Homo sapiens: one gene and its partners. The protein of the gene in region 3 purifies or fractionates together with the protein of the main gene of each other region. This does not show direct contact. Each region holds a gene or a part of one and is shown on either strand. Other genes may lie near its edges. The genes, in order: ACTR10, RCCD1, MAPK8IP3 and WDR54.

What was found.
Region 1: the proteins of MAPK8IP3 (region 3) and ACTR10 purify together in Homo sapiens (affinity purification with mass spectrometry; 2 studies listed by BioGRID and IntAct, with this or other methods). This does not show direct contact.
Region 2: the proteins of MAPK8IP3 (region 3) and RCCD1 purify together in Homo sapiens (co-immunoprecipitation; 3 studies listed by BioGRID and IntAct, with this or other methods). This does not show direct contact.
Region 4: the proteins of MAPK8IP3 (region 3) and WDR54 purify together in Homo sapiens (affinity purification with mass spectrometry; 2 studies listed by BioGRID and IntAct, with this or other methods). This does not show direct contact.

What each region holds. Positions count from the first base shown.
Region 1 is NC_000014.9:58,195,254-58,203,150, forward strand, and holds the start of ACTR10 (actin-related protein 10), read left to right. Parts: upstream 1-4,895; 5' UTR 4,896-4,964; coding exon 4,965-5,041; intron 5,042-7,601; coding exon 7,602-7,674; intron 7,675-7,897. UniProt on the Homo sapiens protein: Part of the dynactin complex that activates the molecular motor dynein for ultra-processive transport along microtubules.
Region 2 is NC_000015.10:90,950,044-90,957,895, forward strand, and holds the start of RCCD1 (RCC1 domain-containing protein 1), read left to right. Parts: upstream 1-4,840; 5' UTR 4,841-4,905; exon of another isoform or gene 4,906-5,840; intron 5,841-6,568; 5' UTR 6,569-6,691; coding exon 6,692-6,857; intron 6,858-7,069; coding exon 7,070-7,460; intron 7,461-7,560; coding exon 7,561-7,682; intron 7,683-7,852. Other genes in the region: UNC45A (protein unc-45 homolog A), read left to right, coding at 111-224, 457-572, 2,886-3,003, 3,112-3,267, 3,416-3,673. UniProt on the Homo sapiens protein: Plays a role in transcriptional repression of satellite repeats, possibly by regulating H3K36 methylation levels in centromeric regions together with KDM8.
Region 3 is NC_000016.10:1,765,179-1,770,854, forward strand, and holds the end of MAPK8IP3 (C-Jun-amino-terminal kinase-interacting protein 3), read left to right. Parts: intron 1-781; coding exon 782-964; intron 965-1,041; coding exon 1,042-1,231; intron 1,232-1,350; coding exon 1,351-1,470; intron 1,471-1,544; coding exon 1,545-1,625; intron 1,626-1,725; coding exon 1,726-1,793; intron 1,794-1,970; coding exon 1,971-2,119; intron 2,120-2,385; coding exon 2,386-2,557; intron 2,558-2,626; coding exon 2,627-2,740; intron 2,741-2,890; coding exon 2,891-2,929; intron 2,930-3,020; coding exon 3,021-3,200; intron 3,201-3,298; coding exon 3,299-3,448; intron 3,449-3,524; coding exon 3,525-3,646; 3' UTR 3,647-5,173; downstream 5,174-5,676. Other genes in the region: NME3 (nucleoside diphosphate kinase 3), read right to left, coding at 5,471-5,588.
Region 4 is NC_000002.12:74,416,942-74,424,734, forward strand, and holds the start of WDR54 (WD repeat-containing protein 54), read left to right. Parts: upstream 1-4,788; 5' UTR 4,789-4,809; coding exon of another isoform or gene 4,810-4,875; intron 4,876-5,178; exon of another isoform or gene 5,179-5,211; coding exon of another isoform or gene 5,212-5,212; coding exon 5,213-5,434; intron 5,435-5,928; coding exon 5,929-5,991; intron 5,992-6,377; coding exon 6,378-6,444; intron 6,445-6,536; coding exon 6,537-6,590; intron 6,591-6,913; coding exon 6,914-7,041; intron 7,042-7,793. Other genes in the region: uncharacterized protein C2orf81, read right to left, coding at 4,602-4,619. UniProt on the Homo sapiens protein: Plays a role in the adhesion and fusion of the sperm-oocyte membrane through its interactions with IZUMO1 and IZUMO1R/JUNO.

The DNA of each region.
Region 1 (7,897 bases), on a different chromosome or scaffold from region 3:
CTTTGGGAGGCCGAGGCGAGTGGATCACCTGAGGTCAGGAGTTTGAGACCAGCCTGGCTAACATGGTGAACCCCGTCTACACTAAAAATACAAAAAATTAGCCAGCCATAGTGGCTCATGTCTGTAATCCCAGCTACTCAGGAGACTGAGGCTGGAGAATCACTTGAACCAGGGAGGCGGAGGTTGAAGTAAGCCAAGATTGTGCCACTGCACTCCAGCCTAGAAGACAGAGGAAGACTCCATCTCAAAAAAAAAAAAAAAAAAAAAAAGAATTAGTAGACAAGAACATTAAAATAATTATATTTATAGTCATACATTCAAGAAGGTAGAGGAAAACACAAGCATGTTTCAGGAAAGACATAGAAGATACAAAGAGTGTCTGGGCGCAGATTACACCTGTAACCCCGGCACTTTGGGAGGCTGAGATGGGTGGATTGCTTGAGCCCAGAAGCTCGAGACCAGCCTAGGCAACATGGCAAAATCCTGTCTCTCCAAAACAAACAAACAAAAAAGAGCTGGGCATGGTGGTATGTGCCTGTAGTCCCAGCTATTTGGGTGGCTGAGGTGGAAAGATCACTTGAGCTCAGGAGGCAGAAGTTGCAATGGGGAGATCACACCACTACACTCCAGCCTGGGTGACAGAGCAAAACTCTGTCTAGAAAAAAAAAAGATACAAAGAAAAAGACCTAAATTGAACTTCTAGAAGTTAAAGATACAATTTTGAGGTGAAAAATACACTGGATGGGATTAATAGCAGATTAAATGCTGCAAAAGAGAAGATCAATAGACATGAAGACAAAACAGTAGAAACTATACAAAAAGAAACACAGAGGAAAAAATATAAGTGAGAAAAAGAAAAAAGAACAAAGAGTCAGTGAGCTACGAGAAAGCTTTAAACCACCTAATAACATATGTACTTGGACTACCCAAAGGAGAAGAGTCAGTATAGAAAAATTACTTGAAGAAACAAAGGTCAAAATATTCCAAATTTGATGAAAACTATAAAACCACAGGTCCAAGTTCACTTAATCCCAAACAAAAGAAACATGAAGAATATAATGTCAAGGCACCTGAAAAGACATTCCCACCAGTGCCACAACAGTTACAAATGCCATGGCAACATCAGGAAGTTACCCTATGTAGTCTAAAAGGGGGAGAAACCCTCAGTTCCAGGAATTGCTCAACCCTTTCCCAGAAAATCCATGAATAATCCACCCCTTGTTTAGCATATAATCAAGAAGTAATGATAAGTATAAGCAGTTAAGCAGCTCACGCTGCTGCTCTGCCTATGAGTAGCCATTCTTTTATTCCTTTACTTTCTTAATAAACTTGTTTTCATTTTACTCTATGGACTTGCCCCGAACTATTTCTTGTGCGAGGTCTAAGAACACTTTTGGGGTCTGGATTGAGACCCCTTTCTAGTAACAATAACACTTAACTCATAAAGTTGCTGTGAGGAATAAATGGGATCATATATAGCAAGGAGAGCTAGCAAATAGAACTCAACAAATATTATCTCTAGCTGTATCTATGGGAGTGGAAGAGATTGGCAAAGGAGAGGGTGTACAATAAGAAAAGAGGTTCAAGAGCAGAACCATGGAGAACAACAACATTTAGGTTGTGTACTGGGTTGAATAGTGTCCTCCCCAAAATTCGTGTGAACAGAAATCTTAGAATGTGACTATATTTGGAATTAGATCCTTTGCAAATGTAATCAAGTTAAGATGAAGTCATACTGGGTTAAGATGGACCCTGAGCCAGTAACTGATATCCTCAGAAGAAGAGGGAGGCCGGGCACAGAGGCTCATGCCTGTAATCCCAGCACTTTGGGAGGCCGAGGCGGGCGGGTCACTTGAAGTCAGGAGTCGAGACCAGCCTGGCCAACATGGCAAAATCCCATCTCTACTAAAAATACAAAAAATTAGCCAGGCATGGTGGCAGGTGCCTGTAATCCCAGCTACTTGGGAGGCTGAGGCAGGAGAATTGCTTGAACCTAGGTGGCAGAGGTTGCAGTGAGCTGAGATCGCGCCACTGCACTCCAGCCTGGGCGACAAGAGTGAAACTCCGTCTCAAAAAAAATAAAAATAAAAATAAACAAGAAGAGGGAAATTTGTTCAGCCGAATACAGAAAAAATAAAAAAGAAAACAATTAAGAAAAAAGGAGGGAAATCTGGACACAGAGACACACACAGAAGGAAAGTGATGTGAAGACACAGGGAGGAGTACATAATGTGAAAAATGCAGACACAGCGAAGAAGGCCAAGTGATGACAGAGGCAGAGATTGGAGTTATGTATCTACAAGCAAAGGCACATCAAAGATTGCCAGCAACCACCAGAAGCTAGGAAAAGGCAAGAAAGAAGGCCAGGCACGGTGGCTCATGCCTGTTATCTCAGCACTTTGGGAGGCTTAGGAAGGCGGATCACCGGAGCTCAGTAGTTTAAGACCAGCCTGGGCAACACGGTGAAACCCATCTCTACAAAAGATGTTAAAATTAGCCACGCAAGGTGGCACATGCCTGCAGTCCCAGCTACTTGGGAAGGTGAGGCAGGAGAATTGCTTGAGCCCAGTCTGGGGTTCAGTGAGCCAAGGTTGCACCACTGCACTCCAGCCTGGATGACAGAACGAGACTCTGTTAAAAAAAAAAAAAAAAAAAAAAAAAGCTGGGCGCGGTGTAATCCCAGCACTTCGAGAGGCCAAGGCAGGCAGATCACCTGAGGTTAGGAGTTCGAGACCAGCCTGGCCAACATGGTGAAACCCTATCTTTACTAAAAATCCAAAACAAACAAAAAAAAATAGTTGGGCGTGGTGGCAGGTGCCTGTAATCCCGGCTGCTCCAGAGGCTGAGGCAGAAGAATCACTTGAACCTGGTGGGGCGGAGGCTGCAGTGAGCTGAGATCGAACCTGGGTGACAGAGCGAGACTCCATCTCAAAAAAAGAAAAAAAAAAAAAGACAAGAAAGGATCCTCCTCAAGAGCCTTCAAAGAGGGCATGACCTTGCTCTTGCTGACACCTTGATTTCTGACTTCTCACCTCCAGAAGTGTGAAAGAATAAATTTTTTGTTTCCTTGAACCACCGTTTGTGGTACTTTGTTACGGCAGTCCCTAGCTAACAAATACAGCTGGTGAGCTGTCATGGAAAACATAGAATAGGTAATAACAAACTTCATCATTTCAATAGTTTCAGAAACATAATTTCAAATTGATCCTTACAAATACCTTGTGAAGCAGCAGAACAGTTTACAGATAAGGAAGTGGACGATCAGAGGTATTAGGGACTTGACAGAAAGTGGCAGAAACAGAATCTGAACTCAAGTAAGGGGTCCTATTCAAATAATCTGACTCTATTAAGCAAAAAATTTAATCTCTTCCCACGTTTCTTAAAGTTTTCTTCCCCGTCACAACTCCAACTTCATTCTCCTGTCTCCAGGAATTTGCTTTCAAGGAGGATCATTGATCAGTAATTTGGACTTAAACATGAATTTTACTAATATCACATTCCAAATTTCTGCATTGTTACAGCCTTAGTTTTTGTTATGGAAATAGCTTATCCCCAACTACCCCGCTAACTCTAGTTACCAACCATTAGAGTAGGGCCTTTTTTTTTTTTTTTTTTTTTTTTGAGAGACAGGCTCTCACTCTTGTTGTTGCCCAGGCTGGAGTGCAGCGGCACAATCCCGACTCACTGCCGCTTTAGACTTCTTGGGCTCAAGGGATCCTCCCGCTTCGGCCTCCCAAAGTGCTGGGATTACAGGTGTGATCCTGCGCTCGGACAGTTGGGACATCTTAATACAGTATAACCTCATCTTAACTTGATTACATCTGCCAAGACTCTATTTCCAAATAGGGTCACATTCTGAGGTTCCCAGTGGACAAGAATTTTGGGGGGGGGGGCATCATTCAACCCAGTACACCAGCTAAATGTTGCTAGTCCTCACCGATTTACCCTTGAACCTCTTTTCTTATTGCACAGCCTCTCCTTTGACAGTCTTTTCCACTCCTATGCATAGATACAGTTAGAGCTAATATTTGCAGGAAAAAAATATTTTCACAGAAAGCTGTGAAGTGACAAAGATGTAAACAGTAATGTAAATGTTAAAAGTAGTGGCAAAAACAGCAATTACTTTTGCACCAACCTAATAGGGGCCTTTGCTTCAATGTTTCTTCTATTAAACCATCCCGACCGCTCCTCTATGGACAGATTCAAGATTCACAGACGCTACTCTAGCTGCTTAATTCTGGAGTAAAATAAAAACTTTCAGAAAGACTACTAACTAAAGTATTGTCTGTACGTATTATTCTCTAAAGCATCATTAGCATAGGCTTTGCAATTAGGAAGTCTGTGGGTTTGTTCCTGGCTCTGCCGTGGGACATTGGGAAAGTTAATCTCTCTGAGCGTCGGTCCCCACAGATAAGAAAACACATATTCTTGTTATTTCTTGAGAAGATTAAATATTAGGCAAAACGCCTAGCACAGAATAGGGTCTCAGCATCTTCTGCCCCCCAAGAGCATGAATCAAAGGTTCGGAATTGCGTCGTCTCTCGGCTGCCCCTTGGCAGCCAGGTCCTCAGTGACCTCTTCACAGTGAGCTGAGACCGAACCTCTTCACAGCCGCGCGTGGGTGCGGCTTTGGGGCGTGGTGGGAGGGAAGGATAGGGAGGCCGGCTCCGCCCCCTCAGGGCGACCGGCGCGCCTGATCGCCGCGGCCTCCGCGCCCCCGCACTCGGATTCGCGCCCGCCAGCGCCTCTTTTCCCCTAGTCCTGGCGACGGCAGCACCTGCAAGGGTGGGTCCAACGCGGAATGAGGCACAGCCTGGGACAGCCCGGGCCCGGCGCGCCGCGGCCGCGCGAGGCCCCCGCCGTCGCCGACGCCCGAGCGCCGGAGCCCCGGCCCCGCCCCGCGAGCGCCGAGACTTGTTGGCCGCGGAGACTGCGACCCTCTTCTCTCAGTCTGCCTTACTACCATGCCGCTCTACGAGGGCCTGGGGAGCGGCGGGGAGAAGACGGCGGTCGTGATCGACCTGGGAGAGGCCTTTACCAAGTGAGTGGCCGTGACGCCAGCTGTGTTCGACCCGAGGGGAGGGCGGGTGGCAGAGCCCCAGGCACTGCCTGGGTCCTCATCGCCGACTCGCTGGGCAGCTCCGGGCCTCCCCTTTTCTTCAACCAGCGCCCTTGCAAATAACAGCTCTTATTATTTCCTCCCTGGGCGATGCGAATCCGAGGATCGGGGTCTGACTCCCAGAGAGGCCCAGAAAGCTTCTGTTGAATTGCCCTCGTCGCCGCCCCTTGTCATCACCCCAAACCCAACAAACCCTTTGGGATCATCTGTGTAGGGGATGACAACCGTGACCTAGACCCCGCTTACCCTGGGCTCCTCAGTTGAGGAAGGCAGCCAACCGAATGTAAATGCTCGATGACGAATTTCATCATAAAATATTGAACGGAGTTTATTTTGGTGCTGAAAATGGAAAGATGTTTAAGACAGGGCTATCGCTGCTCAAGAATTAGGGAGACTGGGCACATTAAGAGGTGAAACCCTATAGATAAGATTCTGGAAATCCTTTGTTGGCTCCCCTAAACTCGAAGGTTAGATTTGACATGTTTTAAACAAACCAACTTGTAAACAATAGAGAGGAGGTTCTCAACCTTTCGGATGGCATAGATCTCTTTAATGGCTGGATGAAAACCACAAATGCACAAATCTTAAGGTACTTATACACAGTTTCAGGGAATTGGCAGACAATCAATGTGGTCCTGGGACCCTAGATTAAGAGTCCTTGTGATGGGCTCAACAGAGAGGGAAGTAACAGGCAATTACATCATATATGTATTTATGAAAATGAAACATTTGAAAAATCTTTTTATATCTCTAGGCACTTCCTGACGTGTAGTAGGTATTTAATAACTATTTATTGACTAAGTGGTTAAAAGAGCCTATTTAAAAATTGGACCCCAGGAACTCCAGAATTGGATTAAACATAGTCCTTGGTTAATGACATTCTCTTATTGTTCTATGCGAGGCCCTTCCTTATTTATATTTTCTTATTAAAATTATTTTGAAAGCGTAATAAACAGTTCGAGGCTTCTAGTCAAAGATAATTATTTTGGCTGTACTTGGAAGAAATAAGCAAAAAGCTATATTTGAAAAAGACAGCAGGAGGATGATAAGATAAATGTATGAAGTAAAAAAAAGGAATTGAAGTCTAATGGCTTGCATTCTGAGATGTTTGAGGAGCACTGATGCAAGTAAACATGGAGACGGGAATAGGAGGAGATGGAGAGAATTATTTGGGAATACGAGGAGAGCAGTATCAAAAACTAGACAGGACAAGAAGACAGGATGTTAAGACTAAACTAGTATGATGATCATTTTTAGCAACGTTTTTAGCAAATTTTTGTTTTACTAACATGAAACAAAAATGGAAATACCTAAATACTCAAGAAAAGAGCATCGTTTTTAAAATAATGAAATATGTGGTTTTAAAAATAATACTGTAATTCCAGCAGTTTGGAAAGCTGAGGCGGGCTGACCACTTGAGCCCAGTAGTTCAAGACCAGCCTGGGCAACATGGGGAAACCCAGCTCTACACAAAATACAAAATTTAGCCGGCGGTAGTGTCGTGCCCGAAATCCTAGCACTTTGGGAGGCCAAGGGGGGAGGATCGCTTGAGCCTGGGAAGCGGAGGCTGCAGTGATCTGAGTTTGTGCCACTGCACTCCAGCCTGGGCGACAGAGCGAGACCCTGCCTCAAAAAAAAAAAAAAAAAAAGTGATAGCAATGAAGATTATGTTAATATGGGCAGAAGCTTACTGTATGAGTTAATTATGTATGAAGTGTGATTAAAACTATGTCAAATATATATGCATAATCATAAGAAGTAGACTGAAAGTGAATACACCAATATGGAAGCTAACAATATTAGAATGATGGAATTATGAGTGATACAGATGAATTATATGAATGAAGTCACATAATGTAGTACAGATTCAGAGTTGTAGATATGTCTTGCCTAAATTCTGCTAAAATTAACAACTAGGAAAAAAGTTGGCCAGGCGCGGTGGCCCACGCCTGTAATACCAGCACTTTGGGAGGCCGACGCGGGCGGGTCACGAGGTCAGGAGATCGAGACTATCCTGGCTAACACGGTGAAACCTCGTCTCTACTAAAAAAAAAAAAAAAAATTAGCCCTGCGTGGTGGCCGGCACCTGTAGTCCCAGCTACTCAGGAGCCTGAGGCAGGAGAATGGCGTGAACCCGGGAGGCGGAGCTTGCAGTGAGCCGAGATCGCGCCACTGCACTCCAGCCTGGGTGACAGAGCCAGACTCCATCTCAAAAAAAAAAAAGTAAATGCTGCCCTAAAATAATACATTTGTTTTTTTCAGCATCACGAATTTCATAGAATTTTTTTCTGTTAATACACAAGCATTAATAAATAGTATTATTAGTTTTGTGGAGTGATTTTTTTTGATCCCTTAAAATACATCAGGTATTTTCAAATGTTATTGTGGCCATTGTTTTGAAACAAATACAGAGAAAATTAGTTTCTGTGACAAATATTTAAAAGAATACTATAAGTTGTTTCAATTTTCCATTTATTTGCAGGTGTGGATTTGCTGGAGAAACTGGTCCAAGATGTATAATTCCTAGTGTGATAAAAAGAGCTGGGATGCCTAAGGTATTTAAAAAAAAATATTAGCAAAATAAATGCCATACTATAAAATGTTTTAAAATATGACTTCAAGTAAGATTGATTAAAACAGTACTAAAGGCCAGCCGTGGTGGCTCACGCCTGTAATCCCAACACTTTGGGTGGCTGAGGCGGGTGGATCACCTGAGATCAGGAGTTTGAGACCAGCCTGGACAACATGGTGAAACCCTGTCTCAACTAAAAATACAAA
Region 2 (7,852 bases), on a different chromosome or scaffold from region 3:
GCCTGGGGAGAGGGAGGAAGGTGAGGGTGGCACGGTCAGGGCTGGGGAGCCCGATGGTCGGGGTCTTACTCCCAGGGATGTCCTGAGCAGTGACGGGCTTGTTCCTACAGGCGCTGATCCCGCTGGCCCTGGAAGGCACGGACGTGGGGCAGACAAAGGCAGCCCAGGCCCTTGCCAAGCTCACCATCACCTCCAACCCGGAGATGACCTTCCCTGGCGAGCGGGTACGTGTCTTCCTGCCCCGGCCTTTCCACTCCCTCTGTCCCTGATGGCCTGTGGGCTGGGCTGTAGCTCCCCTTTGGGACCAGCAGGAAGTTTCAGCTTTGTCAAGGCCTGGGGCAGGGAGGACAGCCTGAGACAGCAGTACTCTCTTGGGGGTGGGCTTCTCCCTGCAGGGTTGGTGGGGCTTGTGGGGGCTGCGGCAAGTACCCCTGACAGGTGGGGTGCACATTGCAGATCTATGAGGTGGTCCGGCCCCTCGTCTCCCTGTTGCACCTCAACTGCTCAGGCCTGCAGAACTTCGAGGCGCTCATGGCCCTAACAAACCTGGCTGGGATCAGCGAGAGGCTCCGGTAAGGTCCCTTGGGATTGCGGGGCCTGGACCAGGCATCGGGATTCGGAATATCCCCCACAGCAGTTTACACATTGGGAAACACTCCTTGGTCATGGGCTTCTGTGAGCCTCACAGTGACTGCTCCGCATCATTAGAGAGGAGGCGACAGGCCAAGAGGCAGCACGGCACGGCAGACTCTAGAGTCAGACTGCCTCGCTTCCCTGATTGCAAATGGGCAACCTCAAGCAAGTTACTTAACTGCTCTGTCTCAGTTTCTCCCTCTGTGAAATGGGATGATTATAGTACCTACCTCATGGCATAGTGATGAGGAGAATAAAATGAGAAAATACACCTAAAAGTACTTACTACATGGGTACCTGGCCCCTAGCATTGTGCCATATCAGTATATTTTAGTTTTTTTTTTTCTTTGAGACGGAGTCTTGCTCTGTCACCCAGCCTAGAGGGCAGTGGCATGATCTCAGCTCACCGCAACCTCTGCCTCCCAGGTTCAAGCGATTCTCCTGCCTCAGCCTCCTGAGTAGCTGGGATTATAGGCACGTGCTACCGCGCCTGGCTAATTTTTGTATTTTTGTAGAGATGGCGCTTTACCATGTTGGTCAGGCTGGTCTAGATCTCCTGACCTCGTGATCCGCCCACCTCAGCCTCCCAAAGTGCTGGGATTACAGGTGTGAGCCACTGCAGCTGGCCAGCATGTTTTAGTTTTATTACTAACTGTGACTTTGAACATATTACTCATTACTTAGCCCGTTTCCTATTCTGCAAAACAGTAGTGATGATGATCACACTTGCACCTTTAGTATAGGGCCATGGTGAGAATTAAGTAAGATGATCCAGGTGCCTGGTCAGGGTAAATACTCAAATGAGGCCGGGCGTGGTGGCTCACACCTGTAATCCTGGCAATTTGGGAGGATGAGGCAGGAGGATCACTGGAGCCCAGAAGTTCAGGCCAGCCTGAGCAGTGTAGCAATACCTCGTCCCTATTTAAAAAAGAAATTAAAGAGAATATCAGGAAGAATAGCTAATGCATGCTGGGCTTAATACCTGGGTGATGGGATGATCTGTGCGGTAAACCACAACGGCACATGGTTACCTGTGTAACAAACCTGCACGTCCTGCACATGTACCCCTGAACTTAACAGTTGGAAAAAAAATTTGCAAGGTGTGGTGGCGTGCACCTGTAGTCCCAGCTACTCGAGAGGCTGAGGCAGGAGGATCACTTGAGCCTGGGGGGGTCAAGGCTACAGCAGTGAGCTGTGATCATGCCACTTTACTCCAGCCTAGGTGACAGAGTGAGATCCTGCCTCAAAAAAACACAGAAACAAAAACCCTCAAATGTTAGGTGTTAGCCTCACCATCACGACCACCCTGGTCTTCTACATCCTAATTTTGAGCATTTCCCACAATCCTATGCTATTTCCTAGGCCTGGTTAGAAGGCTAAGAAGCACTGTAGTTCATACCTGGTGCAAGAGGGTCCTTGGACATTGCCAAGGGAAATCCTCAGCCCAGGACTTGATTGCATGAGGGTGTGGGTGCAGGGGTGGAGCAGATGTAGAAACTCTGATGATGCTGCCGGTGTTAGTCTGTTCTTGCATTGCTGTAAAGGAATACCTGAGACTGGGTAATTTATAAAGAAAAGAGATTTAATTGCTTCCTGGCTCTACAGGCTGTGTAAGCATGGCATTGGCATTTGCTCAGCTTCTGGGGAGGCCTCAGAGAGCTTTTACTCATAGTAGAAGGCAAAGCAGGAGCAGGCACATCACATGGTGAAAGTAGGAGCAAGAGACAGTCGGGGGAGGTGCCACACACTTTTTTTTTTTTTGAAATGGAGTCTCCCTCTGTTGCCCAGGCTGGAGTGCAGTGGCGCAATCTTGGCTCACTGCAACCTTCACCTCCTGGGTTCAATCGCTTCTCCTGCCTCAGCCTCCCTGAGTAGCTGGGACTACAGGCGCGCACCAGCATACCCAGCTAATTTTTTTTTGTCTTTTTAGTAGAGACAAGGTTTCACCATGTTGGCCAGGCTGGTCTCGAACTCTTGACCTCAAGTCATCTGCCTGCCTCGGCCTTCCAGAGTGCTGGGATTACAGGCGTGAGCCTCCACGCCCGGCCGAGATGCCACGCACTTTTAAATAACCAGATCTCACGAGAACTTACTATCACGAGGATAGCACCAAGCCATGAGGGACCCATCCCATGACCCAGTCACCTCCCACCAGGCCCTACCTCCAACATTGGGGATTATAGTTCAACATGAGGGTTAGAAGGGAAAACATCCAAACCGTATCCCTGCTGCTTCCTCCTGTGGCCCTGCAGGCAGAAGATCCTGAAGGAGAAGGCTGTGCCCATGATAGAAGGCTACATGTTTGAGGAGCATGAGATGATCCGCCGGGCAGCCACGGAGTGCATGTGTAACTTGGCCATGAGCAAGGAGGTGAGGGTTGGTCTGGGTGCTCATGACAGGCGGGGATGCAGAGGTACCTGTGCCCTGGCTGGGCTTTACACCCAACTGACTTGGTCCACTCCTCACATCTGGCCACAGGTGCAGGACCTCTTCGAAGCCCAGGGCAATGACCGACTGAAGCTGCTGGTGCTGTACAGTGGAGAGGATGATGAGCTGCTACAGCGGGCAGCTGCCGGGGGCTTGGCCATGCTTACCTCCATGCGGCCCACGCTCTGCAGCCGCATTCCCCAAGTGGTCAGTGCCTCTTCTCAGTGGGGGAGGAGGGACGGACCAGGAACTCCCAGCAGCAGCTGAAGGGGGCAGTCCTAGGGTGTGTGGGTGTGTCCCTTGCCAAGGTTGAGCCTGTTGCCCAGGGGTCATATCTACCCTGTTTTTCTCACAGACCACACACTGGCTGGAGATCCTGCAGGCCCTGCTTCTGAGCTCCAACCAGGAGCTGCAGCACCGGGGTGCTGTGGTGGTGCTGAACATGGTGGAGGCCTCGAGGGAGATTGCCAGCACCCTGATGGAGAGTGAGATGATGGAGATCTTGTCAGTGCTAGCTAAGGGTGACCACAGCCCTGTCACAAGGGCTGCTGCAGCCTGCCTGGACAAAGCAGTGGAATATGGGCTTATCCAACCCAACCAAGATGGAGAGTGAGGGGGTTGTCCCTGGGCCCAAGGCTCATGCACACGCTACCTATTGTGGCACGGAGAGTAAGGACGGAAGCAGCTTTGGCTGGTGGTGGCTGGCATGCCCAATACTCTTGCCCATCCTCGCTTGCTGCCCTAGGATGTCCTCTGTTCTGAGTCAGCGGCCACGTTCAGTCACACAGCCCTGCTTGGCCAGCACTGCCTGCAGCCTCACTCAGAGGGGCCCTTTTTCTGTACTACTGTAGTCAGCTGGGAATGGGGAAGGTGCATCCCAACACAGCCTGTGGATCCTGGGGCATCTGGAAGGGCGCACACATCAGCAGCCTCACCAGCTGTGAGCCTGCTATCAGGCCTGCCCCTCCAATAAAAGTGTGTAGAACTCCACTGTGTGCCCTGTCCTTGGGCAGGGAGGGCTGCTGTGAGTGGGAGTCTCTGAGTGGGTGAGTGTGGGTGAGTATGGGTGTGAGCTGGGCGTGGGTGAGTGTGCAACGGAGCTTCACAGTGGCAGACCCACCTCCATGGAAGGAATCCAATGGATTCCCCAACCAGGGCCCACTGAGTTGCTTCTTAATCCTACTGGAGGGACAAAGGGTAAGCCTAGGAAGCTAATCAATAAGAAACTCACCAGGTGCGGTGCCTCAAGCTTGTAATCCCAGCGCTTTGGGAGGCTGAGGCAGGTGGATCACTTGAAGTCAGGGGTTCGAGACCAGCCTGGGCAACAAGCAAAACTCTTTCTCTATAAAAATACCAAAAAAAAAAAAAAAAAAAAAAAAAGAGCAGAGTGTGGCGGCATGCACCTGTAATCCCAGCTACTCGGTAGGCGAAGGTTGCAGTGAGCCCAGAGCGCAGCCTCCCAAAGTGTCGCCTGGGCGACACAGCGAGACCCTATCTCAAAAAATATTAAACTATCCCAAGAAATAAGTCGTTTAGGGTAGAGACTCCCATATGCTGGGCCTTCAGTACGTTTGTCTTTATATTGGGAGTCCTCTGTGGCCTCCGCTGAGGGCGCTGGGGCGGGGGTTGGGGTTGGTGGCCAGCTGAGCCTGGTTGAAGGGCGGCTTGGGCCCCGCCCACCACCCCAGCACGTTCGAGGAGGGCTAAGCCCAGCGTGAGGCTCGTTGGCTCGACAGAGGCACGTGACGGGTCCTGAGCCAATCCGTGGAAGGTAAAAGCTGCTTCCTGTTGGGGCATGAGTCCGGCGCGTGTCGGGTTTTGAGCTGCCGCGGTCCCGGGACTGAGGTGGGTGGCGGGGTCCGCCCGTCTTGGGCGTCACTCCTCGCCAAACCTTTAGCTCAAGTCTTAATGAATGTCCTCTCTGTGGTTCTAATCCGAGCTCCAGCCCCACGGGTTCCTGCAGGGGCGGGACCACCTGGCCCAACCTCTGCCTTGGTCCAACGCCCCCGGTTTCCTCCAGGGCCTTGGTCCAACGCCCCTCGGAGGTTTCAGCCCATTTCACAGACCGGGCCGCAGGGCCCCGGCGTAGGCCTCGGGACCGGAGAGGCCCTCAAGGGGAGTTGAACAGGGCTGCGGCCGCCGCGCCCCGGGCGGCGACGTCACCGCCCTTGCTGGTGATTGGCCGCCTCGCGCCGCGCGCCCTTCAAACCTTTTCTCCCCGTGGCTGTCGGCGCCCGCTGGGCGGGAGGCCTTTCCGGAGGCGGCCGCTCTGCGCCTCGGCGTTTCCTCCAAGGCTGCCCACCAGAAGGACCTGCCCGAGAGGGTAGAGGGCATAGGGTCAAGATCAAGGTCAGAGGCCCCCTTGGGTTGGGAGAGGACACGGAAGGGGTTAGGAGCCCAGGAACTGGGGTCTCAGGAGAGACCCAGGATCTGACTTAAGAGGCCTGAAAATGCCCATGCAATTCTGCTTCAGCCCGGGTGCAGCGGCTCACGCCTGTAATCCCAACGCTTTGGGAGGCCGAGGCGGGCGGATCACTCGAGCCCAGGAATTTGAGACCAGCCTGGGCAGCATAGCGAGACCCCTGTCTCTATTATATTAAAAAAAAAAAAAAACAAACCCGCTCCAGCCGAATCTGCTTGAAGTTGGCGTTGCTGTTGTAACCACCAGACTGTTTGTCTCCCCATTTAACGGTTAGCTCCTTGGGAGCAGACAGCTGTCCTCACTGGCAGAGGAGGAGCGCTCAGTAAATGCTCGCTGGACGAATAAATGGCTAGATAAGGTACAGTTGAAATTCTGTCTGTATAAGTTTCTCAAAACCAGTAAGATGTCCAGGGATAATTTTTTTGTCAACACTAAATACTGGATTCAGTAAGCTAATACTGTGTGTTTATCATGGCATGTACTCGCACCAAACCCTTTATTTGCATTTATTACAATTCTGTGAGGAAGGTTCAAACAGCACCGCCCCCACCTCCCTTTGTAAACTGAAGAAACGCAGTTGGACTCAGGTGGATTGGCTGCGGTCCCAAGGCCCCGCTGAGTTGCAGAGGCACTGCCTCCCAAACGCTCTTCTGCGTTCCGCTGTGGGGAGAGGGGCAGAGCACTGTGTGTGGAGTTGGTGGGACCTGATTTCAGCGCTCTGCCCCTCTCTGTCTGGCTGTATGAGTGTGTAAGGGTTACTTTGTCTCAGAATCTCCTCTGTAAAACGACCATTTTGGTTCCCAAGATTACATGGGATAAAGTGCCAGATGCTGGGAAGCTGCGGGACGGGGTGGGGGTGTCGGGGGCGCTCGGATCCTAGTCCAATGCCTAAAGGACAGGCCACTTCGTACCCACTTTGTGGCACGCTGAGCTTGAGCCAAAAGGGAGGACAGGGAAAGTGCCTCTAAATATTTGAGCATCTTTGTAAATCCGGTAGGGCATTAGTCAGGGCGCCTGCTCAGCGAACCTTCGTGGCACGGACTCTGCCTTTGTGGTCGGGAGAATGATAGTTTCTCCATTTTACAGATAAGGCAGCTCCAGCCCCTGGAAGGCCAGAGACTTGCCAGTGTCCCACTAGCGGGCTCTTCGCAAGAATCCCCCCGGGCCCGCCGCAGCCAGGCGGCGGCCGGCAGAGGGCGCTGCTCGGGCATGGCGGAGGAGCGGCCGGGGGCCTGGTTCGGCTTCGGTTTCTGCGGCTTCGGGCAGGAGCTGGGCTCCGGACGCGGGCGCCAGGTGCACAGCCCCAGTCCGCTGCGGGCGGGCGTCGACATCTGCCGCGTGAGCGCGAGCTGGAGCTACACCGCTTTCGTGACCCGTGAGCACTCCCCGCCCCGTCCCCACTTATTCCAGCCGCGCTCCCCAGTCGCCTCCCCGCACCGCTGTGGCCAGTCCAGTTTGTCTCCCCCGTTCAGGCCGCCAGCCCCACATTCTGGGTTGGTCCCCAATTCGACCCCTTCCCAGGAACACCCCGCTCCCCCCATCCCCGCCGCCTCCATTCTGGCCACCCTGCTCCAATCCGCCCCGCAGGTGGAGGCCGCTTGGAGCTGTCGGGCTCAGCCAGCGGCGCGGCGGGCCGCTGCAAGGACGCGTGGGCCTCGGAGGGGCTCCTCGCGGTGCTGCGCGCCGGGCCGGGGCCGGAGGCGTTACTGCAGGTCTGGGCGGCCGAATCGGCGCTGCGTGGGGAGCCATTGTGGGCCCAGAATGTGGTGCCCGAGGCCGAAGGGGAAGACGATCCGGCCGGTGAGGCCCAGGCTGGGAGGCTACCCCTGCTGCCCTGCGCCCGTGCCTACGTGAGCCCGCGGGCGCCCTTCTACCGGCCTCTGGCTCCGGAGCTGCGGGCACGCCAGCTGGAGCTGGGCGCCGAGCACGCGTTGCTGCTGGACGCTGCTGGCCAGGTGTTCTCCTGGGGCGGGGGCAGGTGAGCGGAGGCGGGGGCAGGTGAGGGCTGCTGATTGGAGAAGCAAGCGGAGCGGGACCCCTTAATGCGACTGTAGCTGACGACGGTCTCCCTTGCTCAGGCATGGACAGCTGGGCCATGGGACCCTGGAGGCAGAGCTGGAGCCACGGCTGTTGGAGGCGTTGCAGGGCCTAGTCATGGCTGAGGTGGCCGCGGGGGGCTGGCATTCTGTGTGTGTGAGTGGTGAGTGACTTAGTGCTTCTCCAGACGAGCTCATGATCTTGTGCAAACCTTCCTCCTCGTTTTCCAGTTTGGGTGGGGGCCTACCCAGGCCTCCTTCCAAATTCATCCATCCATCGCCCAGTCAGTTATGACTCCTAAATGCCTCTCACCCTCGGCCTCCTCTGCCTGCA
Region 3 (5,676 bases):
GTGAGCAGCTGGAGTGGGCGTTTCCACTCGGGCGCCACTCCCTTTTACTAGCAAGCTAAGTAAAAGCCCTGCCACACAGCAGCTGCCTTCTCGGGGTGTCCTGTGGACACGGGAATGTGGCAGTGGACGGTGGGAGGGGCAGCACCCAGTCAAGTGAGGCCCTGGGCCCTGTTTCTGGGAGGAAGCTCGCGGCAGCCTCGGCCTCTTCTCCCTACCTACTCAGGACCCCACGCTTACCTGGTTAGAGGGTGACGGGTGGGCACGGCCTGCAGCTTGAAGCATCACTCGGAGACCACAGGAAAACATTTCCTCATGCTGAATGTGAAACCTCCAGTTGGGCCGAAGGGGCTATGGGGGTGTGGGTGAGGAGCTTCGTGTCACCCCTGTGGGCAGTAGCCTTGGTGATGTTCTGGGCCAGCCCCAACACTGGGAGGACGAAGGGGTGCCGAGGGCTCTGCCAGGTCTCTGGTGTGAAACCACAGGGCCGTCTGGGGTCCTGAGGGTCTGCCACAGGATCACAGGTTGTTTGCTCCCAGAACCAGAGTCTTACTACTCAGCTCCCCTTGGCCCAGGGGCCTACCCAACAGAGCAGGCTTGCTGGAGTCCCAGACCTCCAGGCAGAGGGTCGTGGGTGGGCTGTGGGTGGAGCATGTGTGGAAGCTGGGTCTGCTGGGAAAGTGGAAGGCCAGCCCCGGCTTCCTCTGCCCCTGTGTAAGTGCTGGGCACGCCCTTGCAGTAGTGGGTTCCCCCGCACAGGCTGACGGGCCGTCCCTCTCCCCAGCGGCCAGCGACAGCGACTACCCTCCCGGGGAGATGTTCCTGGACAGCGACGTGAACCCAGAGGACCCGGGCGCAGATGGCGTGCTGGCCGGTATCACCCTGGTGGGCTGTGCCACCCGCTGCAACGTGCCGCGGAGCAACTGCTCCTCCCGAGGGGACACCCCAGTGCTAGACAAGGGGCAGGGTGAGTCCTGGGCGAGTTTCCCCCATCCCCTCATTCCCACGTTTCTGCCCAGCCCAAGCTCACCTCTCCTAACACAGGGGAGGTGGCCACCATCGCCAACGGGAAGGTCAACCCGTCCCAGTCCACAGAGGAGGCCACAGAGGCCACGGAGGTGCCAGACCCTGGGCCCAGCGAGCCAGAGACAGCCACATTGCGGCCCGGGCCTCTCACAGAGCACGTCTTCACTGACCCAGCCCCGACCCCGTCCTCTGGCCCCCAGCCTGGCAGGTGAGCTCTTGGGCTGGGGCAGGAGCAGAGGGAAGGCTTGCAGAGGTGGGAAGGGCCTCGGGGTCTTGGGGCAGGTGCGTGCTCCGTGGCCCCCCCTGGAGCCACCGTTCTTCCTGCAGCGAGAACGGGCCAGAGCCTGACAGCAGCAGCACACGGCCAGAGCCAGAGCCCAGCGGGGACCCCACGGGAGCAGGCAGCAGTGCTGCACCCACCATGTGGCTGGGAGCCCAGAACGGCTGGTAGGAAGGGCCCGGGGCAAGGTGGAGGGAGGGTCCTGGGTGAGCCCCTCGCCCATCGCCGCTTCCTTCCCTAGGCTCTATGTGCACTCGGCTGTGGCCAACTGGAAGAAGTGCCTGCACTCCATCAAGCTGAAGGATTCTGTGCTGAGCCTGGTGTGGGTGACCCCAGACCGAGGGCCGGGCGGCGCGGGGGAACGGGGCGGAGGGGGCTGGCACAGCCTGGCCCAAACCAGGCTCACCGCATTCCTGTTTCAGGCATGTCAAAGGCCGTGTGCTGGTGGCTCTGGCGGACGGGACCCTGGCCATCTTCCACCGTGGTGAAGGTGGGGCCTGGCAGCACGGGGTGTGTGGGTGGCAGCTGATGGCCCTGGCATTGTTTAGCCAAGGGGCTCCCGGGGTTCCAGGCCTCTCCTTAGTCTGGCAGTGGGTGTCTCAACCCGATGCCCTGAGCAGAGGTGGGGCCTGGCCAGGCCTGAGCAGGTGTCCGGGGCTCCCTCCAGATGGCCAGTGGGATCTGAGCAACTATCACCTAATGGACCTGGGCCACCCGCACCACTCCATCCGCTGCATGGCTGTTGTGTACGACCGCGTGTGGTGTGGCTACAAGAACAAGGTGCACGTCATCCAGCCCAAGACCATGCAGATAGAGGCGAGTGCCGGCCAGGGCCCCGGGGAGGGGAAGAGGCTCCTGCTGGCCAGCAGCTCTCCCGCATCTTCCATACGGAAGTCCACGAGGCCCTACGTGGGTCCCATCTCCCCTGTACCACCTATGACTCAGGCTCGAACAGGCGCAAAGCAGGCGCTGGCTGGGAGGTCTGAGGGGACTGCAGGTGGCCCTGGAGCTGTGGCAGGTTTGGGGCTCCCCACTTCCTCTCCTCTCCCCAGCCCTGTTGATGGGCAGCCATGACTCCACAGAAGTCATTTGACGCCCACCCGCGGCGGGAGAGCCAGGTGCGGCAGCTGGCGTGGATCGGCGATGGCGTATGGGTGTCCATCCGCCTGGACTCCACCCTGAGGCTCTACCATGCACACACGCACCAGCATCTACAGGACGTGGACATTGAGCCCTACGTCAGCAAGATGCTAGGTGAGGGGCCACGCCAGATGGGGTGGTGGGGTGCTCAAGGCCAGCCACCCTGACCGCTCTCCCCCACAGGCACTGGCAAGCTGGGTTTCTCCTTCGTACGCATCACGGCCCTGCTTGTCGCGGGCAGCCGGCTCTGGGTGGGCACCGGCAACGGAGTGGTCATCTCCATCCCCCTGACAGAGAGTGAGTGGCCTGCACACCTGCAGGGGCAGTGGTGCTGCCAGAGGTGTACGTGGGTTCACGGGGTGGCTCTGCAGGGCCACCTTGGAGGGTGCCTTGCTGCCCCTACGCTGACCGCTCTCCTCTTCTCCCATGCTCCTCCCATGTCCCCAGCTGTGGTCCTGCACCGAGGCCAGCTCCTGGGGCTCCGAGGTAAGCCCAGCCACCTCGTGTCCCCTCACGGGAGCCTCTCCCACTCTCCACCTGTATGCGGGCTCAGCGCCTCTGGGTTCTCTCCCTGCAGCCAATAAGACATCCCCCACCTCTGGGGAGGGCGCCCGTCCCGGGGGCATCATCCACGTGTATGGCGATGACAGCAGTGACAGGGCGGCCAGCAGCTTCATCCCCTACTGCTCCATGGCCCAGGCCCAGCTATGCTTCCATGGGCACCGCGATGCCGTGAAGTTCTTTGTCTCGGTGCCAGGTGAGGCTGGGCCCCTCCTGCCATCCACATCCCCTGCATGCCAGTGGCCGCCGCCTCCCCCAGGAGGCCGCTGTCCTGAATCGCTTCTGCCATCCCAGGGAACGTGCTGGCCACCCTGAATGGGAGTGTGCTGGACAGCCCAGCCGAGGGCCCTGGGCCAGCTGCCCCTGCCTCGGAGGTCGAGGGCCAGAAGCTGCGGAACGTGCTGGTGCTGAGCGGCGGGGAGGGCTACATCGACTTCCGCATTGGTGAGCGGGGCCCAGGGACAGGGCTGAGGTTGGGCGCGGGGGGAGCCTGGCCGTCACTCTGCTGCTTTGCCCGCAGGAGACGGAGAGGACGACGAGACGGAGGAGGGCGCAGGGGACATGAGCCAGGTGAAGCCCGTGCTGTCCAAGGCAGAGCGCAGTCACATCATCGTGTGGCAGGTGTCCTACACCCCCGAGTGAAGCTGCTGCCCTGCCTGGCCCGACCTGTACATAGGACCCCCGACCACCTGACCCCCGCCCGGCCCGCGGGGTAGCCAGCCAGGCGCCGCCGCCCCTCTTCTAACCTCTCAACCTGCAGCTTTCACCTGAGTCTGGCCCCTCCAGCGGGCAGGGAGTGCGGGGATGCGGATCAGCTGGGAGGAGGAGGGGAGGGGAACTTCCACCCGAGGGGAAGATGCTCTCGGGACAGTTTCCCGGGCAGCTCCTGGCCAGCTTCCAGCCCAGAGTCCTCAAGTCCAGGGCACCTTGGGCCCAGCGCAGGCAGAATCCGAGGTGGTCCTGGCTCTACCCTGGGCCTCCTACTCCCCAGCACCCCTGGAGGAGGCAGGGGCTCCCCGCCGCCGAGGCTGCCTGCCCTGGGCCCACCTCTGCATGCTGCTCATGGGGCCACCCTGCCTCCTGGGCCCTCACTCTGCCTAGGGGAGCTGGGCCAGGCACTAGCCTTTGCCCAGGGAGGTGGGCCTCAGGCTGCCCAGGTGCCTGCACCCCAGCCGGCCTTCTCTGGGGCCTCCCCGTCGTCAAGCCTCTATCCTGTCTGTCCCCACCCCAGCTGTCCCCTGCCCAGGGAGCTGGCATAAAAGCACGAGGCCCGGCTCCCTGGGGCAGCTGCTTGAGAACAGAGACTGCTACCCCATCCTGCCCATGCAGGCAGGCTCTTGCCAGCCCCGTTCTGACCCGTGTCCCCCCAGGCTCTGCCTGGGCAGAAGACTCACCTTGGAGGAGTGGGCCCTGGAGTCCTGTCCCTCCCAGAAGCCCCCAGGGTGGGATTTCTCAGGCTGCCAGGGCAGGCCCAGGCCTCAGGAAGAAGGGGAGGCCCCTGGCCTCTCCGGGATCAGTCCTAGGACACAGGCTCAGCCTCAGGTTGATGGGGGATGATGTGCTCCCGGGGCCTGCCTCCTGCACGGGGCTCCACGGAGCCCAGCTCCCAGACACGCTACTAAGTGCCTAGGGTTGCCCGCTGTGGCCTGCTTCCAGGGAGCAACAGAGAGGCCACCAAGCAGAGGCCCGTGGGGCTGAGGATGGAGCCGCCCCCAGCCGACTCCAAGCCCGCAGAGGGCAGACGCCACCCTGGACTGCTCTCCCTGCCCAGCTGGGCCTCTCTGGCCTATTCCTACCTTCCAGGCCCACTGCACTCCTGTCTGGGAGGCCCTTATGAGGGCAGCCCAGCCCCCGCACCCACCCCCAACCAGAGAAGCACAGATCTTGGGGAGCTGCCCCACAAGCCCCGCTGGCCACCGAGGGCTGCAGCCGCTGCGCTGCCGGCTTCTCCCCACCACCCTGCCACCTCCACTGTGATGTATGTCCGCTCCCTCGTCTGTTCCCCCAGGATCTCGAAGTGACTCCGGGCTGAGCAGTGGGGCGGCTGGGGGAGGGGTGACGATTCTCCTCAGGCTTTGGCCCTGCAAGCAAACCCACATATCTGCTCTGTATGTAATAAATGTCTTAACGTCGTAGCTGCCTGTTCCTGGGCCCAAATCGAAACGAAAACGAGGACTTTATTATAAAAAAACGTTGGACCACGTTGGGCTGGGCACCAGGACAGTGTCCTGGCACGTTTCCAGGCGAGCCGCGCAGGCTCCTGGAGCAGCTCCTCGGGCAGGAAACCCTGTACGCCAGGGATTGGAGAGGCCTGCGCCACCCTCCATGCAACGTCCAGACAGGTGGATGTTCAGCAGCCCGTCCAAAGGGATGCTCCAAGCGCTGTGGGGTGGGGCCAGAAGCCCGCCCACCTGGGCCCTGGAGGAGGCTGGAGTGTGAGAGCCTCTGTGACGCGCATCTGCCGGGCTACTCATACAGCCAGTGCCCAGCGCTGTCCTCCCAGCAGAGGAGCTCGTCTGCGCGGAACCAGAGAGCGATCTCGCGGCGGGCACTCTCCACCGAGTCGCTGCCGTGAATCAGGTTCCTGCGCGGAAGAGGCGCGTGTGAGCGTGGGAAAGAGACCTCCGGCACGGGTACCACGCAGGCTGAACAGGGGGAGGCCGGACGGGGCT
Region 4 (7,793 bases), on a different chromosome or scaffold from region 3:
TACATGCTTTATGGTGGATTTGGGCCCCCTTGCTCTCTCTGCTGCAGCATCCTAGGGGAGTAGTCAGTCACCCAGCCTGCCATGCCCCAGCCCCTCTTCTCCACGAAGAGTAACCTGGGGGAGGGGATCATGGGCAGAACAGGAGGCAATGTGGATGAACATTTGGCGCTGCTAGCAGCAGCAATGACAGATGTCAAAGAATGGAACATTGAACCAAAAACAAAACAACTGTCCAGAGGTAGTTTGTGAACAAAGGAAAAATGGAACCAGAACCTGGGGGGGTGGCAGGAGCAGGAGGGCTGGGAGTGGGAAGGGTGAGCTCCTTGTTATTGGTGCCCCATCTGAGGAGAGGAAAATGGCCAAGTGGTAGAAGCAAAGTAGGGTTGGGGGAGCAGCCCCAGCCCACCTCAGGTAGCTGCCACAGGGCTCATGGGCCTCACCTGGACAATAGGTGACTGCATCTCCATCACTGCAATATGTACTCAGATCCCAGGCAGACGGTAAGGGGGCTGGGGCCACTGCAAAGAGGGAGTAGGGGACTCACACCCCTCCCGCTTTCCTGTAGCCAATGGGGGCTGTCCAACCTAGTGCAGGGACTAGGGAAGGTGGGGAAGGATGAAAGGTGTGAGCCTCACGTGGTGACAAAGACAGTTTGGCTGGGGGAATCCTGGGGGCCAGCACCCCCCTCCATTGGCCACACCTGCTGCTGCCAGGACAGTGGAGTGGGGTGTGCCAGAATGGGGGCTTGGGCCCCTTTTAAGACCAGGGGAACCCTCCCAGGCCCCTCTATGGGAAGCCAGAGGCAACAGTGGAGGAGCAGAGAAGTGGCTCCCAAACCAAAAGCCCAGAGAGCAATGTCACCACCAAGGGATCAGGGACGCAGCAGGTGCAGGGTGCGGCTAAGCAGGACATTAGCCTTGTCCAGGAGGGCACATGTGTATGAGTGGGTGGACGGGGGGAGGAGGGGGTAGGGATGGGAAGAGGCCAGGGGAAAAGTCCTCTCCACTCAGCCCATAGGGACCTGCAGCGGCTGGTGTGTTGTGTAGTGTGGTGGTGAAGGTGCAGGTGGAAGATGAGGGTGGTGGCTGGAGGCGGTGGTGATGGTGGGTGTAGGGAAGGGGTGGGGGGTGGGAGGTGGGGGGTTGGGAGCAGATCAAAGCTGTCCAGTCCCAGAAGGAAGCTGCTCCTCCAGTGAGGACTCCTGCGAGATGCCCTTCTCTTCCTCCTTCTCCAGTTTTTTGGGTCTTCCCCTTGGTTTCCTTCCCAGAGTTGTGGTGGTTTTCCCGGTCTTGGCAGCACCCTTGTTTTTGCTTCCCTTTGGTCGGCCCCGAGGTCTCTTAGGTGTTGGCACTTCGCTGAGCTCCTTCTGACTCCCTACCAGCGCTGTCCTGGGACTCACCGGAGGCTGCTTGCGCGGCCTGCCACGGCCCCGCTTCTCAGTGCCGTCCTTTTTCTGCTTGGAGGCCAAGGGCTGGCTGGACTTCGAGCTCGACTCGCTCATCTTCCCTTCTCTAAGGACTAGTTGGAAAAGTGATGGCTGGGATGGGCGAACTCGGCCGCTGGCCTGCGGTGCATGCTCCGGTTTGCCGGGAGCAGCGGTGCTGGGCGCTGAGGACAGGCCAGTCTCCACCGCAGCCGCCCCTGGTCGCAAATGCGGATGCCTTCCTGGAGCCGCGCCAGCGCCAGAAATAGCCCAGGCTCGGAGTCCCACTTAGAAGAGCACAGCCCCGGCTCAGGGGAGCTTAAAAAGTTCTCTACATTTTTTTTTTTTAACCAACTATTCTTATCTCCATTTTATGGTAATTTACCCAGTATCATACAAGTAGGATGTAGTGAAGTCAGAATGCATTCACATGCAAGTCTGTCTGACTCCAGAGCCTCTCAAAGACATTTGCAACAAATATGAAAAAAGATAAATATCCCCGAGTAAATTAAAAGCTCATATAAAAAAAAAAATGGCCGGGCGCAGTGGCTCACGCCTGTAATCCCAGCACTTTGGGAGGCCGAGGTGGGTGGATCATTTGAGGTCAGGAGTTCGAGACCAGCCTAGCCAACATGGTGAAACCCCGTCTCTACTAATAATACAAAAATTAGCCAGGCATGGTGGTGGGCGCCTGTAATTCCAGCTACTAGGGAGGCTGAGGCACGAGAATCACTTGAACCCGGGAGGCAGAGTTTGCAGTGAGCTGAGATCATGCTACTGAACTCCAGCCTGGGTGACAGAGCGAGACTCTGTCTCAAAAAAGAAAAAAAAAACTAATAAAATAAAAAATAGAAGAAGAAAAATGGCCAGGCACAGTGGCGCACACCCACAGTACCAGCTGCTCGGGAGGCTGAGGCAGGGGGATTGCTTGAGCCCAGGAGTTCAAGTCCAGCTTGGGCTATATTGCAATAAAAATTTAAACTATAAGAAGAAAAACCATTTAAGATCCCAAAGATAAGCAAAGGACATGACATTTCACAAGAGAGGGACTGTAGATGACTAATAAATATAGTATTGACATTCTGATTTCTAGTTCATCAAATTGGAATTATTTTAAAAACAAGAATACTCAGCATTGGCAAAGGTTTAGTGTGATACCATGCTGCAACAGTATGCATGAAGACATTAAAAAATGTTTTCACTTCCTCAACCCTGCAATTTCAGTTCTATAAATACAACCAAAAGGCATTTTCTGAAATGAAGATAAAAATATATTCTCCAACAAATTCTCTGCGGTATTTTTATAATAGCAGAATATTGAAAACATGTCTTTAAAAAGAGAATAAATAATTGACATGCTATATATACTGAAATATTATGCAATGATTAAAGGTAATCTTTTTTTGTTTGTTTGTTTTTGTTTTTGAGACGGAATCTCGCTCTGTCACCCAGGCTGGAGTGCAGTGGCAAGATCTCGGCTCACTGCAACCTCTGCCTCCCAGGTTCAAGCAATTCTCCTGCCTCAGCCTCCGGAGTAGCTGGGATTACAGGCGCCTGCCACCAGGCCTGGCTAATTTTTTTTCTATTTTTAGTAGAGATGGGGTTTCGCCATGTTGGCCAGACTGGTCTTGAACTGGCCTCAAGTGATCTGCCCACCTTGCAGGCATGAGCCACCAACCCAGCCATTAAAGGTAATCTTTAGAAAGAATTTGCAATGGCATAAAGCAAATGTTTATGATGTAACGTTAATTGAAAGAAGCAGGATACAAACTTACACATCAATTATGATCTCATATATGTAAACCACTATGTGTTCAACAAAAGGAAAACTTCAAAATGATAACAGAGGATACGTTTCCTTCCTATGCTCTTTTCTATTTTGTAAGTTCTCTACAATGAGTTTGTTTCCTTTTGTAATCACTTAAAAAAAAAAAAAGACTAGTCCCCAAAACTCACTTTAGAGACATAAAAAGTTTACAAACAATCTCTTGGGAGCTCCCTCAATTCCCCACAACAGTCTCCCTGAACCTGGTTCCTTCCAAAATGTACTTCCAAATGTGATCTTCCCAAACCTTTGCCTATTGCCCCGCTAAAACCTTGTCTCATATCTGTTTCCTAAAATTCATTATCCCCCCAAATCTGCTGTTTCCTAAGTCTTGCAGAACTCAAAATCCCTGAAGTCTCATTAACCCTATCCACCAGTGAGAACAGCCCTGTAGCAAGCACCAGGAGTGGCCCATAGCCCAGGCCAAGCTTGACTAGAGCAGGGCTGACTGGACTGAGTAAAGAGAGTTGTTTCCTTAGACCTCCCCTCCCAGCCTCGCATCTGACACCCGTGATGGTGACCAGAAGGGACAGAGATATTTTTGCACAAAGGCTCTTCAAATCCGTTTTCTTTCTTCTTCTTCTTTTTTTTTTTTTTTTTTTTTTTTTTTTGAGACAGTCTCTCTCTGTCACCCAGGCTAGAGCGCAGTGGCGCGATCTCGGCTCACTGCAACCTCCGCCTCCCGAGTTCAAGCAATTCTCCTGCCTCTGCCTCCCGAGTAGCTGGGATTACAGGCACCGCGCCACCACATCCAGCTAATTTTTTGTATTTTAGTCGAGACGGGGTCTCGCCATGTTGGCCTGGCTGGTCTTGAACTCCTGAGCTCAGGCAATCCTCCCGCCTCAGCCTCTCAAAGTGCTGGGATTACAGGCATGAGCCATTGAGACCGGCCCCGTTTTCTTTATTTTAAAATTGATTGGCTCTTAAACAATTTGACTTTCAAGTGCAGTCTCTGAATTATTTAATATATTTCTTCCTCTTGAAATTCTCGAAATAGATTTTTTCTGTTATCTTCCCTCTCTAAATGCTCATCCATTTAAATACGCACCACCATGTAAGAGACTTACTACATTCATTAGCTGTTTCAAAATCCACTTCCTGTTCTCGGGCTCTACACCACCCACTGACCCTTTCCCTCATGGCTTGAGTGTAACAAAGCGTTTGAGTGGGCACCGTGCAGGTGTAGGTTTTCTGCCCGAGTACCGACGTGGCTTCCTTGGTCATCTAAACTCCCGCGCGGTGGGCGGGAGCAAGTAGGGGCACTGGGCGGCCCAGAGCCAGCCCACTGTTCCCGACACCGACCTTAACGGCCGACCCTGGCTCTGGCGCATCCCCAGCTGAACTGAAGCTCACCGAGCCTTCGTGCGCCATCGCCAACGCGGTCGCAGCAACGCTGGTGTTTCTGCTGCATCCGGGCCGCGTAAGCCACCTAACAGTCGCCTGGGCAACCACGGGCTCGGGGTCGCTCGCCCCGCCCACAGTTGCCCCGGCAACCGCGCCGCCCGCGGCACGTTCCGGCCGCTCACCCCGCCCAAGGGCCGTGCGTACGTGCGTCGTCTCTATGGTGGCGGCGGATTTGGAGGGACCCTACGAACCAGGAGTCAGGCGAGCCGATCTGGGGCTGCAGGTGTTACCTCTGATCTAGGCCGGGGGCTTCAGGGATCCGAGCCGAGGGAGAAAGCCTTGGGGGCTTCATCACACTTATTTGGCTCGCGGGCTTGGGGCCATCGGGTGGTCCTGTGTCATCCCCATTCCTCCTCTGCGATTCCCCCGTCGCCCCAAAACAGCCCTGGGACTCCCCTGTCTTGCTCCTCGAGACCCTCCCCCATCACCGTCCTCTGGGCACCCCATCCTATGACCCAGTCTCAGGCATCTTCCGAAATGCTCGATGATAGCCGCCCTCGGGCATCTCCGCTGCGTCTGTTTGTAGCGCGCCTGGTGATTCGGCTGCACCCCCACACAGGATGTTCCGCTGGGAGCGCTCCATTCCCCTGCGAGGCTCGGCCGCCGCCCTGTGCAACAACCTCAGTGTGCTGCAGCTGCCGGCTCGCAACCTCACGTATTTTGGCGTGGTTCATGGACCAAGCGCCCAGCTTCTCAGCGCTGCTCCTGAGGGTGTGCCCTTGGCCCAGCGCCAGCTCCACGCTAAGGAGGGTGCTGGAGTGAGTCCCCCACTTATCACTCAGGTGAGGCATGGAGCTGGGAGTGATGTTGCTGAACCCAGTCCTACCCCCAGCCTTTTCTCTCCAAACCTTCAGGAGCAGGCATGTCCTAACCTCAGAATCTCCCCAGGCATGTCCTAACCTCAGAATCTCCCCTCTCCTGCCGGGCGCGGTGGCTCACGCCTGTAATCCCAACACTTTGGGAGGCTGAGACGGGCACTTGAGGCCAGGAGTTCGAGACCAGCCTGGCCAACATGGTGAAACCTCTTCTCTACTAAGAATACAAAAAAAATTAACCGGGTGTGGTGGCGTGCACCTGTAATCCCAGCTACTTGGGTGGCTGAGGCAGGAGAATCGCTTGAACCCAGGAGGCTGAGGTTGCAGTGAGCCGAGATGGCGCCACTGCACTCCAGCCTGGGCCACAGAGCAAGACTCCGTCCCCCAAAAAAAAAAAAAAAACAAACAAACTCATCTTCCCTGCTTTGATTTTCTCCCTACACTGATGCACCTCCCTCCAGGTCCACTGGTGTGTCCTCCCCTTCCGAGTGCTGCTGGTACTCACCTCACATCGAGGAATACAGGTAAGAAGAGGACTCTCCTGCTTGCCCCACCAGAGCCTTCTCAGCTTCCCTGCCAGGCTTCCAGACTTTCCCACTTGCCTCTAAACACTTCCAGACTTTTCACATGCTTGGCCCACTCACTCTTTTTCTATTTCTTATCTTCAATCTTTCCATCTTTTCCAGTTTCCAAGTGCCACCTCCAGTATCTGCCCCTTTACTAGCTGTATGTCCTTACACTATTAACTTCTCACTCTCACTGTTGTCCTCTGAAAAAATTAGGATAAAAATAGTACCTACATCCCAGATTTGTTTTGAGGATTAAATGGGCTAAGGCTAACACGGATATGTGAAGTACTCAGCAGAGGTCAGTTGGGTTATGCCCCCTGGTTCTTGCCCCGGTCTTCCAGATGTACGAGTCCAATGGCTACACCATGGTCTACTGGCATGCACTGGACTCTGGAGATGCCTCCCCAGGTACCTGCAGGACCAAGTGGGGTGGGGGCAGGGAGTGTTTGCTAGGGCTGCAGGAGGGGATATTTCTGATCATTCTCCCCTTTCATATTCAGTACAGGCTGTGTTTGCCCGGGGAATTGCTGCCAGTGGCCACTTCATCTGTGTGGGTGAGGGAGCCAAGTGCAGGGCATGGAGGGGTGCTGGGGCATGTGGGCTGTGGCCAGGAGAATAATGAGGGCCTGAGGAAATTGTGGAAAGTTAGAGGGAAGGGTGGAAGTGGAGTGGAATCAGAGACTCCAGTAAACCATGGAAGGGTTCAGAGGGTCAGGGTGGGATAAGACAAGGCTAGTGAATGAAGGGGCATGGCCGTTGGAGCAGTGAGAGGGGGTTTTGTTACTAAGGTTTCTGGGATGGAGTAAGTGTTGAGTATGGTGGCTGGAGACCCAGGAGGGTCAGGAAGTCATCACTGGAGTACTGGTTCTGGATACAGGAACGTGGTCAGGCCGGGTGCTGGTGTTTGACATCCCAGCAAAGGGTCCCAACATTGTACTGAGCGAGGAGCTGGCTGGGCACCAGATGCCAATCACAGACATTGCCACCGAGCCTGCCCAGGGACAGGTGAGTGGACTTCCCCTACCCATCTGGGAGCCTTCCCCACCCTGGGAGGCAGGGGACCTGGCTTTGAGTCTTGGCTCTGCCACTAAACAGGTGGATGGCTTTGGGCAAATCTACATTTTCCTAGTCTTCAGCAACCAGGTTCAGTGATAAAGCCAGAGATACTTTACATTTATGTAGTATTTTATAGTTAATTAAGACTTTATAATACTGATGTGAAATGAGGAGTTGGAACAAATGGTTTCTAAGATACTTTCCAGCTCTGAAATGTGCAGCTTCCTTCTCTAGGGCAAGTCCCACCTATTCAGGCCCAGCTCCAGTGCCATCCATCCTCTCCAGGAAGCCTTCCCCATATTCTAGCTCCCACTGATGTCTCTTAGCTGAAACCTGAATTGGCACTGCCCTCAAAAGACAACTCTTGTCTCCCCAAGTAATTTGCAAACCTCTTGAGAACAGGGTGTATATTTTCTTATTCATATTCTCCATTGTACCTGGCATAGGGCTAGGCCCATAGGTTGTGTTGGCTGCCTGGTGTTGGGGGTGCAGGGGCCCAGGGTCTAGTCATGACTGTGACTGGTTCACTACGAGACCTCCAGAAGGTCACGACACTGTGGCCTCAGTTTTATCATCCATCCAGTGAGGCAATTATGCACCCCCTCCTAATGTTATTGGGGGATGGGACTCCATGAAGAAATTCAAGGAAAGCAGTTCATGCTTCCCAAGGGAACCCTGGTGGTAGGGGTGGTTTCTGATGG